3 linked regions of the Homo sapiens genome follow. The protein of the gene in region 1 purifies or fractionates together with the protein of each later gene. This does not show direct contact. Each region holds a gene or a part of one and is shown on either strand. Other genes may lie near its edges. The genes, in order: TMEM230, ATP11B and ATP8A1.

The links.
Region 2: the proteins of TMEM230 (region 1) and ATP11B purify together in Homo sapiens (affinity purification with western blotting; one study listed by BioGRID). This does not show direct contact.
Region 3: the proteins of TMEM230 (region 1) and ATP8A1 purify together in Homo sapiens (affinity purification with western blotting, with the first as the bait; one study listed by BioGRID). This does not show direct contact.

The regions. Positions count from the first base shown.
Region 1 is NC_000020.11:5,099,347-5,103,101, forward strand, and holds the end of TMEM230 (transmembrane protein 230), read right to left. Parts: intron 1,586-3,755; coding exon 1,445-1,585; 3' UTR 504-1,444; downstream 1-503.
Region 2 is NC_000003.12:182,796,365-182,800,019, forward strand, and holds part of ATP11B (phospholipid-transporting ATPase IF), read left to right. Parts: intron 1-3,655. UniProt on the Homo sapiens protein: Catalytic component of a P4-ATPase flippase complex which catalyzes the hydrolysis of ATP coupled to the transport of aminophospholipids, phosphatidylserines (PS) and phosphatidylethanolamines (PE), from the outer to the inner leaflet of intracellular membranes.
Region 3 is NC_000004.12:42,412,508-42,416,162, reverse strand, and holds part of ATP8A1 (phospholipid-transporting ATPase IA), read left to right. Parts: intron 1-1,444; coding exon 1,445-1,536; intron 1,537-3,149; coding exon 3,150-3,247; 3' UTR 3,248-3,655. UniProt on the Homo sapiens protein: Catalytic component of a P4-ATPase flippase complex which catalyzes the hydrolysis of ATP coupled to the transport of aminophospholipids from the outer to the inner leaflet of various membranes and ensures the maintenance of asymmetric distribution of phospholipids.

The sequences.
Region 1 (3,755 bases):
CATATTCACTGTCAAGGCTCAGGCACTCTAGATTACTGGACTCCCCAGTCAACATTCCCATTACCAAAAGTCCCTAATCTTGGAGGCTGCTTCAGGTCACCCTCTCTTTGTCCCTCACTTCCTGAGTTTTTTTTTTTTCCTCCAACTATACTCACTCTACTGGTGATCTCAAACAGCCCTCTAGCTTTTAAGATACTGTCCAAATGCTGACTCCCAAATTTCTATTTCCATCCAAGACCCACTCTTAAACTCTAGACACACACATGCATCGCAACTGCCTCCTCAACAGCTCCACTTGGATATTGAGTAGACATCTAAAACTTGCTCTTCCCACAGCCTTGCAACTCAGCTGATGGCATGTCCAGGCTTCCAGTTGCCCAAGTCCATAACCTCAGAGTTAGGGAAAGTTGAGTGTGACCCACAATGCCAGCTACCTAGAAACTAAGGTAGATCTAGGTACTGGGATTAAAGATATCATAAAATCATTAAAATGTTTTCTGAAATGTTTGAAGTTAACTCATTTTATTTCTAGGATTTGGATTTCAACATTTTAATTTCTTTGGAATATAAGTCACTTTTTGCAAGCTAAAAAATAGAATCAAACTAAGGTGATCTAGTCCTCTAGGCATCCAGGCTGATCCTTGGAATCATGAGCAGAATGATGACATACTACAAGGTGCTAGCAATACGGCTATAAACTCTAAATAATAACCACTACATGTTTCATTAGGAAACAGCCAAAAGTCCGGCCGTTAAAGGAATAATCTGCAGAACATCTTGATTTACAAGGGACAAAATGATGCAAATTATATGCTGTCCAACCTACTGGTGAACTGGATCAGAATGGTCCAAGGACTGTTAAACAGAGGAAGTATTTACATTTTGAAAACTTGCTCTGCAGGATAAAAAAATTCCTGGTTGCTGTCAGTAAGAAAGCAAGTAAAAAAAATATTACAGATGAACTCACTGATCTTTGATTTTACTAAGGTCTTCCACTGGAACATGAAGGTAGGGATAAGTGTACAGGATAATATACTCAGATATTTTTAAAATAAATTACTTAATAATAAGAAATTAGCCATACCACATTGTTCCATTTGCTACAAGAACAAATTGGCAATGAAGACTATTTAAAAGAAATGCTCAGCTCTACAGAGGGTGGTGGCAGGCAACACTTTTCCATTACAGAATAACCTCTATTCTTCCATGATACATATTCCTGTGGAAAAACTTGTCAGGGCCCAGGGATGAAAAATAGAGCTTGTCCTAATTAGCTAACTGTAGGTTCACTTAACATCTTTGGGAAGGACCCAAAAAATCTGGCCATTATTTTCTTAAACATCTGCAAGCTGCAGAATTCCTTAGTCCTCAGCTATAGTTTCTGCTAGATATCTTAAAGCTGGGACAGTTCCACTGTGACTCCTCCTCAGCTATGGGGTGGGTGCTAGTCATCAAAGTCTGGAATGTCATCATAGGAGTAACCACGGTAGCCTTTGGATGCATAGTAAGCGATGCGCAGGTGGTAAAATCCGGGTAGGAACACCAGAATGCCAATGATCAGCACTGGAACGGCCCGGTCTGCCCCCTGGTGGCAGAAGGAGGCAAACACATTAGTACCGTAAGAGTTACACATTTTAAAATAAAACGTCACAGACCTAATCCTTAGATCAGTATTTTATACTCTTCAGTACTTTTTCTTTGAGTTGTATACCACCAAGGGAAAAGGTTTCCTCCTGATTATAAATTGAAGACAAACTACAAAATATTAACAATTATAAAGAAAAAAATGACCCATTCTCATCCAGATATTTTGGCTTCTTTTCCTTTTTTTAAAGCTCTTAGTTGTGAACACACCATACTCTGTGTCCTGTGGCCAATATTATTAAAACCTTTTCATACATTTAAACTGTAAGGATGTGTAACATTCCACCGAAATGGACATACTACAGTTTTACCTAACTGCCCCACATACAGCTGCTGGACACTTTGGTTGTTTTTCACCTTTTGTAATTGTACAGATACCACTACAATAAACTCTGTGTTTTTCTCAGCCTTTCAGGTTTTCTTTTCTTTCTCTTTTTTCTTTTTTTTTGAGGTAAGAGTCTTGCTCTGTTGCTCGGGCTGGAGTACAGTGGTGTGATTACAGCTCACTGCAACCTCGACTTCCCAGGCTCAAGTGATCCTCCCACCTCAGCCTCCAAGTAGCTGGAGTTACAGGTGTCAGTCACCATACCTGGCTCATTTTGTACATTTGTTTGTTTGGTAGAGATGAGGTCTCGCTATGTTGCCCAGGCTGGTCTCGAACTCTGGGGCTCAAGCAATCCTCCTGCCTCAGCCTCCCAAAATGCTAGAATTATAGGCTTGAGCCACTGCACCTGGCTGGCTGTGTTCCCTGTTGTGTGTTAATTATAGTCAGAATTGGTTCAAGACAACTTGGACACTGTGTATGTGGGGACAGCCCATGAGAAAGAACCACCAACTACTTTAGGTTTCTAAGGTTTCATATTGAAGCTCAACAGGAACTCCAACCAAACCTACTGTAAGAAGGAACTGACTTACGAGGCACAGTGACCCCACACATATAACAGAATTGCTATTTCTCTCCAAATACTGACAGTATGTCCATGGCACTGCACAGCTACAATGACAGCATGCTGCTCCAGCTACAGCCCTTTACCAATCAGGACTCCTGTATGCCAGGCTCAGCCATGTTGTTCCAAACTATGACAGGGCAAACTGTCTAATATCTCAGAGGCCAAGTTTGCCTACCTGCCACCACCTCCCCTATAGGAACTATGGAAGTTTACTGTTGCTCAAAGGAAGAAAAACATGTTTTGCCAACAGAGAACAAAATGTAAAAGAAAATCTTTTTGGTTTTTCTGCTGGAATCTGCTGTACCAGACATGAATATAAAAACAAAGATTGAACAATGAAAAAAATCTAAAACCTGAATAGACAAAGAGTAATGAGATTAAGGCCATAATAAAAAGTCTCTTAGCAGAGAGAAGCCTGGGACTAGATGGTTTCGCTGCTGAATTATACCAGTTAAAGAATTAATACTTGGCTGGGCATGGTGGTTCACTCCTGTAATCCCAGCACTTTGGGAGGCCAAGGCAGGCAGATCGCTTGAGCTCAGGATTTCAAGACCAGCCTGGTCAACATGGTAAAATCCTGTCTTGACAAAAAATACAAAAATTAGATGGGCATGGTGGTATATGCCTGTGGTCCCAGTTGCTAGTGAGGCTGAGGTGGCAGGATCACATAAGCCGGGGAGGCAAAGGTTGCAGTGAGCTGAGATCGCACCACTGCACTACACCTGCATGACAGATGAGACCCTGTCTCAAAAAAAAAAAAAAAAAAAAAGAATACTAATCCTACTGAAACTATTCTGAACAGACATGGAGAGAATACTTCCAAACTGATTCTACTAGGCCAGTTTTACCCTGATACCAAAACTAGGCAAAGACACATCGAAAAAACAAAAATAGGCCAATATCCCTGATGAACATTGATGCAAAAATCCTCAATAAGGAGGATAATACTAGCAAACTGAATTCAACAATACATTAAAAAGATCATTCATCAGGACCAAGTGGGATTTATCCCAGAGAGGCAAGGATGGTTCAACTTATACAAACCAATCAATGTGATAAAATCGTATCAGCAGAATGAAGGACAAAAACCATATGATTATTTCAATCGATGCTAGAAAAGCATTTGATAAAATTCTACATCCACCGGGTGTGGTGGCTCAC
Region 2 (3,655 bases), on another chromosome or scaffold:
TAATTATGGAAATGCCATTAGCTACTCACTGTATTCTAATATTTAGACCTGTACGGTAGCCATTAGCCACAAGTGGCCATTAAAATTAAAATTGGAGCCATATGTGGGTATTAAAATTAAAATTTGAATTCATGTGTCTATTGGCTGCCATTGGCTGCCATATTGGACAGTTCATATTTTCATTATCACAGAAAATTCTATTGGACAGCACCAATTTAGACTTTTAAATGAAAGTCTGTGTCAGTACATATTTGAATGTAATACTACATTTTTAAAGCACTTGCTGTGTGCTGGTATTAACAGATGCTGAATACCAGGGATACAAATGTTGGTCAGGGTCACACATACTCTACATAAGTAGACATTGGATACATGTTGCTGAACAAATAATTAATAGATGAGGAAAGAAAGAATGAATCTGTAGTGTTGTTTCTGTGTTTAGAGACAAAAATGACCAAATTTAAGATTGACTAGCCCAGAAAAAAGTTAGAAAATGAGTAATTACACAAAAACAGTATTACTAGGATAACTGTTTCTTAAACTGTTCCATAAATGTAATCCCTTTAGATTGTATTGGCGATGGTGGTAGGAGGCTGCTAAGATTGTCTTCTGATTAACTGAGAAAAATGAGAAGGTCTTAATCTGAACTCCCTCAACTTTCTGTTCTTCCTCACACTCACCGAACTTGCTTATATTTTATACTGGTACTTAATTCTTCCCTTCACAGTCACAAGGAAGATGCAACCCTCTTTTCCAAGATAACAATTCCACTTAAGCTTTTGATCCTTTTCTTTCATTCTGCTGTCCATACTCCATCAGTTATCATTAGTATGTTTCTTTTCTTTCTCTTTACTTTTTCTCTTAACTTGTGAACATGTTCAAGCCTCTCTGCTACTTTTTCCTGTACCTGTAACTGGCAAATTCTTTTTAATTTTCTGAAAAACAGATCTATAAAACTGTGCTGGCTGATGTATTTGGAATGTGGCTAGTTTGAGTAGAGTTATTCTTACGTATAAAATACACATTGGATTTCAAAAACAGTATTAAAAAATGTAAAACCTGGCCGGGCAAGGTGGCTCATTCCTGTAATCCCAGTACTTTGGGAGGCCGAGACAGGCAGATCACCTGAGGTCAGGAGTTCGAGACCAGCCTGGCCAACATGGTGAAACCTCATCTCTACTAAAAATCCGAAAATTTGCCTGGCGTGGTGATGGGCACCTGTAATCCCAGCTACTCAGGAGGCTGAAGCAGCAGAATCACTTGAACGTGGGAGGCAAAGGTTGCAGTAAGCCAAGATCATGCCACTGGACTCTAGCCTGGGTGACAGAGGGAGACTCTGTCTCAAAAAAGAAAAAAGAAAAAAGAAAAAAGAACTCTCATTTTTTTGTTAGTTACATGTTGAGATATTATAATATTTTACATATATAGGTAAAGTAAAATAAATTTTTGGAATTTTGTTTCTTTTTACTTTTTTTAAAGTGGTTAGAAATTTTAAAGTTACCTACGTGACTTGCATCTGTTGCTCATGTTCTATTTCTATTAGTGCTGCTGTATAACATTAAAAGTGAATTCCTGTATCCTGGTAAGAATAGTGAGATCCTGTCTCTAGGAAAGAAAAAAAAATTAGCTGGGCATTGTGGTACTGACTTGTAGTCTCAGCTGCTTGGAAGGTTAGGGTGGGAAGGTCACTTGACCCAAGTAGTTTGAGGCTGCAGTGAGCCATGATCATGCCACCACACTCTAGCCTGGGTGACAGAGTGAGACCGTCTGAAAAGAATAGTGAGCTCCTGTTTTTACAGAACACATTGTGGAAGTCTAGATATCTCACTTACTAGACTAGACTGTAAATATCTTAGGATAAGAACCATATCTTACTTGTATTTATATTCCTTACACTCAAGACAGCAGTTGGCCCATTGTAGGTATTCACCTGCCAAATGTTGGTTGAATAAATGAATGAGTATCAGATCTAATTCAGCATCAGTTTGAAAATACCTGCATTCTCTGCCTCTTTTCCAAGGAATGAATGAAGGAATAGAAAAAGGAAGCACTGGCCTAGGGTGGTATTTTTTTTGTGGATAAGTTTTAACCTCAAGAATTAATGTTTAAGAACCTAGATCTGTGAGTATGTGCTGCTTTATCTCTATTTTCAGACATATATTCTTAGATACGCAGTTTTGCATTTGGTTAGGAAGAGGATAAAGCATTAGAGGAAACTCAGGTATTCCCAGCAACACTGAAGTAGGGACCTTGCTCCAGATCCTCTAAAGAGCCTTATGATTACCATTATTGTCATTAAATGTTTTCTAGACCTGTGCTATTCAACATGGTATCCACATATGGCTGTCGAAATGTAGGCACTTGAAGTGTGTCTACTCTGAATTGAGATGTGTGTGAATGAAATATGCAGTGGATCTTGAAGACTTAGTTTGGAAAAAGGATGTAAAATATCTCATTCATTTTCTAATTGATTACATGTTGAAATTATATTGGGTTATATAAATATACATGTATTTGGTTAAATATTAAATGCTACTTGTTTATTTTTACCTTTTTTTAAATGTGGAAACTAAGAAAATTAACATATGTGGCTTAGGCCATATTTCTGTTCTACAGCATTGTTTTAGATTATGGTAACAATATATAATGCCTGGCATAGGCAGATTCAAGAAAGTTTTTGATTCTAAGGACTTTATGACTTTACCCAGGCTTTTTTTCTGTGAGTTTTCTATTTTCAGAGTGTTGGTCTGCATTATATCTAAGAGACTAGAAGCTGCCTGATAGACTAACTGCATCTGGTCCCTTGGAAATAATTTATCAAGTCAACATCGACTGCTGTGGGGTTCTAGATTTAGCCATGCTGTTTATTCTTCATTTTGTTTCTGCAGTTGTCTGAGTGCTGATCTTTCTTTCTTTCTTTTTTTTTTTTTTTTGGAGACAGTTTCGCTCTTTCGCCCAGGCGGAGTGCAGTTGCGCGATCTCAGCTCACTGCAAGTTCGCCTCCTGGGTTCCCACCATTCTCCTGCCTCAGCCTCCGGAGTAGCTGGGACTACAGGCGCCCACCACCACGCCCAGCTAATTTTTTGTATTTTTAGTAGAGATGGGGTTTCTCCGTGTTACCAGGATGGTCTCGATCTCCTGACCTCATGATCCGCCCGCCTCGGCCTCCGGAAGTGCTGGGATTACAGGCGTCAGCCACCATGCCCGGCCCGAGTGCTGATCATTCTAAGCAAGATAATATTCATAATTAGCTTAGTTTTTACTAGAAATGTGCATTTTTATTGTTTAATTTTAATTTTTTTATTCTCAAAAGGAAGTAAACGTGTATTTTTTAAAAAATATCAAAATGAAACTCAAGATTTGAGTTTATAAACATAGTTGAAAGATTTTATTCTCAGATATTCTTTATTTTGCTTTTTTTCCTGGAGTTTCTCTGTTATAAAATTTAGTATAAGAAAAACATTCTAGGCCAGGTGTGGTGGCTCAAACCTGTAACCTCGGCACTTTGGGAGACACACAGGAGGATTGCTTTGGGCCAGGAGTTTAAGGCCAGATTGGGCAACATAGTGAGACCCTGTGTCTACAAAAATTAAAAATTAGCTGGGCATGGCGGTGCCTGCCTTTAGTCCCAGCTACTTGGGAGACTGAGGCAGGA
Region 3 (3,655 bases), on another chromosome or scaffold:
CTGTAATGCTAGATCATTTAAAGAGTAGAGTAAGAAAGCAACTCTGTAAAAATGGCCCTTTCTCATTTCTCATATCTGTTTATTTCACTGACAGAAACAAGTTTTACAACTATTTGCAGAACTGCTGGAGTTTTAGATTAATTAGTTTTCTTGCCTTCATGTAGCTAATTTCCAATGACAATAAAATATGTCCAATAATACCAGTTAACCTCCCTAGACTTTAAAATATATATGTGGAAGATTACTACAAATGTTAACATTTCTAAATATTTTTTCTTCGGTTTTTGCCTAAATGTTTGCATAATTCATTTACACAATGAGTTCATTTTGCAGAGGATCCTTTTTTTGTATATGATATTGTTTCATTTCAGGGTCTTAGAAAAATTGGCAAAATACAGAACTAACATAACACAGCAATTTAACTAAAGCTTTTATAGTGGGAAAAACACAAGATGGAAATTTTTCAGCTGAATCAGTTCCAGTTATTAAAATTGCATAAACATTTGCTGCAACACATATGGATTACTTATTTGTTTCTCATGCCTATTATGTTCTTTAATATCAAAACAATTTTATAAAACAATGAAGAAATGGCATGATTTGGAAGATGGATGATGTCTATAAGTACATTTCAGAATTATTACTCAACTTCACGTATTCAACAAATATTTGAGTTTCTACTGTGTGAGACACTTTTATGGGAAGTTGGGGGAGAAGATGCCTTATTTTTTACAATGTGCTTTTAGAAGTTACATAATTATCTGGATTTGTATCTGAGGAGACAACTATTCTAAACACTTCCTGAAAAATACTTTCCTTGTTATTTCACCTACCATAATTATTTTTCTGAAAATAGTTTATTTTAAAATAAAATTAAGGAACACATGTCATACCATATTAGTGGTAGTGAACTTCTAGTTAAAAAGTCTATGAAATGTCTTCTTTGTGTAATGTTAGTTAATATTTACTTTAATATTTTTAACTAAAAAATAGTTTATACCAAAACGTGCCAAATGTGAAAAAAATAGTAATAACTAATTTTTTATTCTAAAAATTGCCATGCTTAGAATATATGTAGTCAGTTTTTAAAAGTGAATAACACTACTGTTGTTTTGTATTTTTTTATTTTAATTGTGTTATACTGGCTCTGTGTTGCCATTTGACTTAAATATAACTGAGTGGGGGGTGGTGAGGAGATCCTACTTTTTACTGGGAGAAGGATTATTGGGGACCAAACTCCTTAGGGAGAAAATGGCCTCAAAAGTCTGTCTAAATACTTGAAATTTCATTCGCTATCTGAGAAAATGTGTAAAAAGAATCACTAGGCTACGGATTTCTCGAGCAATCTTTTGTTTAAGTCTAACTCTCTTTGGTGGTCCTGTGGGCACACTGGGGTCTCTGCCGAGTTGATAATTCATTTCACACATTTGCACCTGCTCTGCAGCCTGACCGAGAGGGCGCAACTGCTCAAGAACGTCTTTAAGAAGAACCACGTGAACTTGTACCGCTCTGAATCCTTGCAACAAAATCTGCTCCGTGAGTATTTGAGTTTCTTATTTTTAAATAAATTCTCTGCCATTGCTGTATCATAGCATTTATACAGTATCCTGACTTTAGGGATATTTATTTAAAACTAATGTCTAAAATAAGTTTTGCATATTTGTAACCTGTAAATAACAGAAAATCCATTGGTCAGAACCATTTCACTTTCAACAGAAGAGATAGTTAATTTTAAAATCTTGCTGTTTCACTTAAAGAAAAACAGTATTTCCACATTCCTTGCTTCCTCAAATCTTTTTCTTTAAAGCCAGTAAATCTTAATTCTTAAAAGCTGCCCCTGTCTTGTTATCTTTTCTACTTGAATAACTTTGCAAGAGCCTTTCAGCTTTCATACAACACAAGGAAGCATATATTTTCCCCTTCAGAAATATTTATGAATATTTAGAGTTGTAAGACATTATTAGATATTGTGCCCTCTTAACATTTCAAGATCTAAAAAAGAATATAAAATGTAAAGCCCTGTAGTAAATGTATTTGTGTGAGTAATATATCTTTTGTTTCATGTTGTTTCCACTTATAATTTATTTTCACTTACGTATACTCATGTCTAATGCTTTTGCTCTTTATACTTCAAGAGGCCTTTTCTAAAGATGTGATCCCCTTGGGGGCCATTCCTTATGCCCATGCCATGTCGGGGCGTGAGTGAGTTTATTTGTGATGCTGAGAGCCAAGGGGAATGTCCTCTGAAGGAAGGAGACCACTTGCCACCATGAGCAGCTATTTGTGTTTATCTCCTCCTCCTCGCCTTTTTAAATTGACAAACAATAATTGTCTATATTTATGGAGTACAAGGTGATGTTTTGATGTACAGTTGGCCCTTTCTATCAGTGGGTTCCACATCTGTGGATTCAGCCCGCTGTGAGTCAAGTATATTCAAGGGGGAAAAAAAAATTCACAAAATTCCTAAAAGCAAAACTTGAACTTGCCATGGACGAAATACTACATTGAATCCACTAGAATGAACTGATGTGAGGGCATTGTATTAAGTATTATAAGTAATCTAGAAATGATTTTAAGTCTACGAGAGAATGTGTGTAGGTTATATGCAAATACTGTGCCATTTTATATAAAGGATTTAAGCATCCGTGGATTTTGATATTTAAGGGGGTCCCTGAAGCCATTCCCACAGATACCAAGGGACCGTACATGGTGGGATGGTTGAATCAATTACATTATTCACCACCTCACCTACATATCACTTTTCCTTTCCTCTCATCCACCTGACCTATGTGGAAATATGTGAGCCCACTTGACTCAACTCCCTCACCCCCTCCAGAATTGGGGAAGCAAAAATTAGAAGAGTTGGAGTTGACTTACGGGACAGAGGATTTAGGGGAATTGAGGGTGCCTACTCAGTCTTCTAGAGAGAAGAATACCTAGAATCTAAACTGGCAACCTAAGATCATCCCACTCTTTATTTTGAAGTTAAGTCTGTATCTTTTCTAGGCATTAAAAATCAGTGTCTCCATGCTTTTGAATGTGGGAAGGCTGCATTTGTTCCCCAGGCTAGAAAATGAATACCCAAAAGTCAGAATAACGGTGGTTTCCAGTGCCTTTGTGAGAATTTCTGTTTTATCATTAACCTACAGATGGGTATGCGTTCTCTCAAGATGAAAATGGAATCGTTTCACAGTCTGAAGTGATAAGAGCATATGATACCACGAAACAGAGGCCCGACGAATGGTGATGGGGAGAGCCTGAAAGGCAGGCTCTGTTACCTCTCTAAGGAGAGCTACCAGGTTGTCACCGCAGTCTGCTAACCAATTCCAGTCTGGTCCATGAAGAGGAAAGGTAGATCTGAGCTCATCTCGCTGATGGACATTCAGATTCATGTATATTATAGACATAAGCACTGTGCAACTGTACTGTAACACCATCTCTTTTGGATTTTTTTAAGGTATTTGCTAAGTCTTTGTAAACGGAAATTGAAAATGACCTGGTATCTTGCCAGAGGGCTTTCTTAAACGGAGAATAAGTCAGTATTCTTATGCCATTACTGTGGGGCTGTAACTGACTGTCAGTTTATTGGCTGTACCACAAGGTAACCAACCATTAAAAAACTCTAAATGATATTTAGTTAAAGGGACTCTTGGTA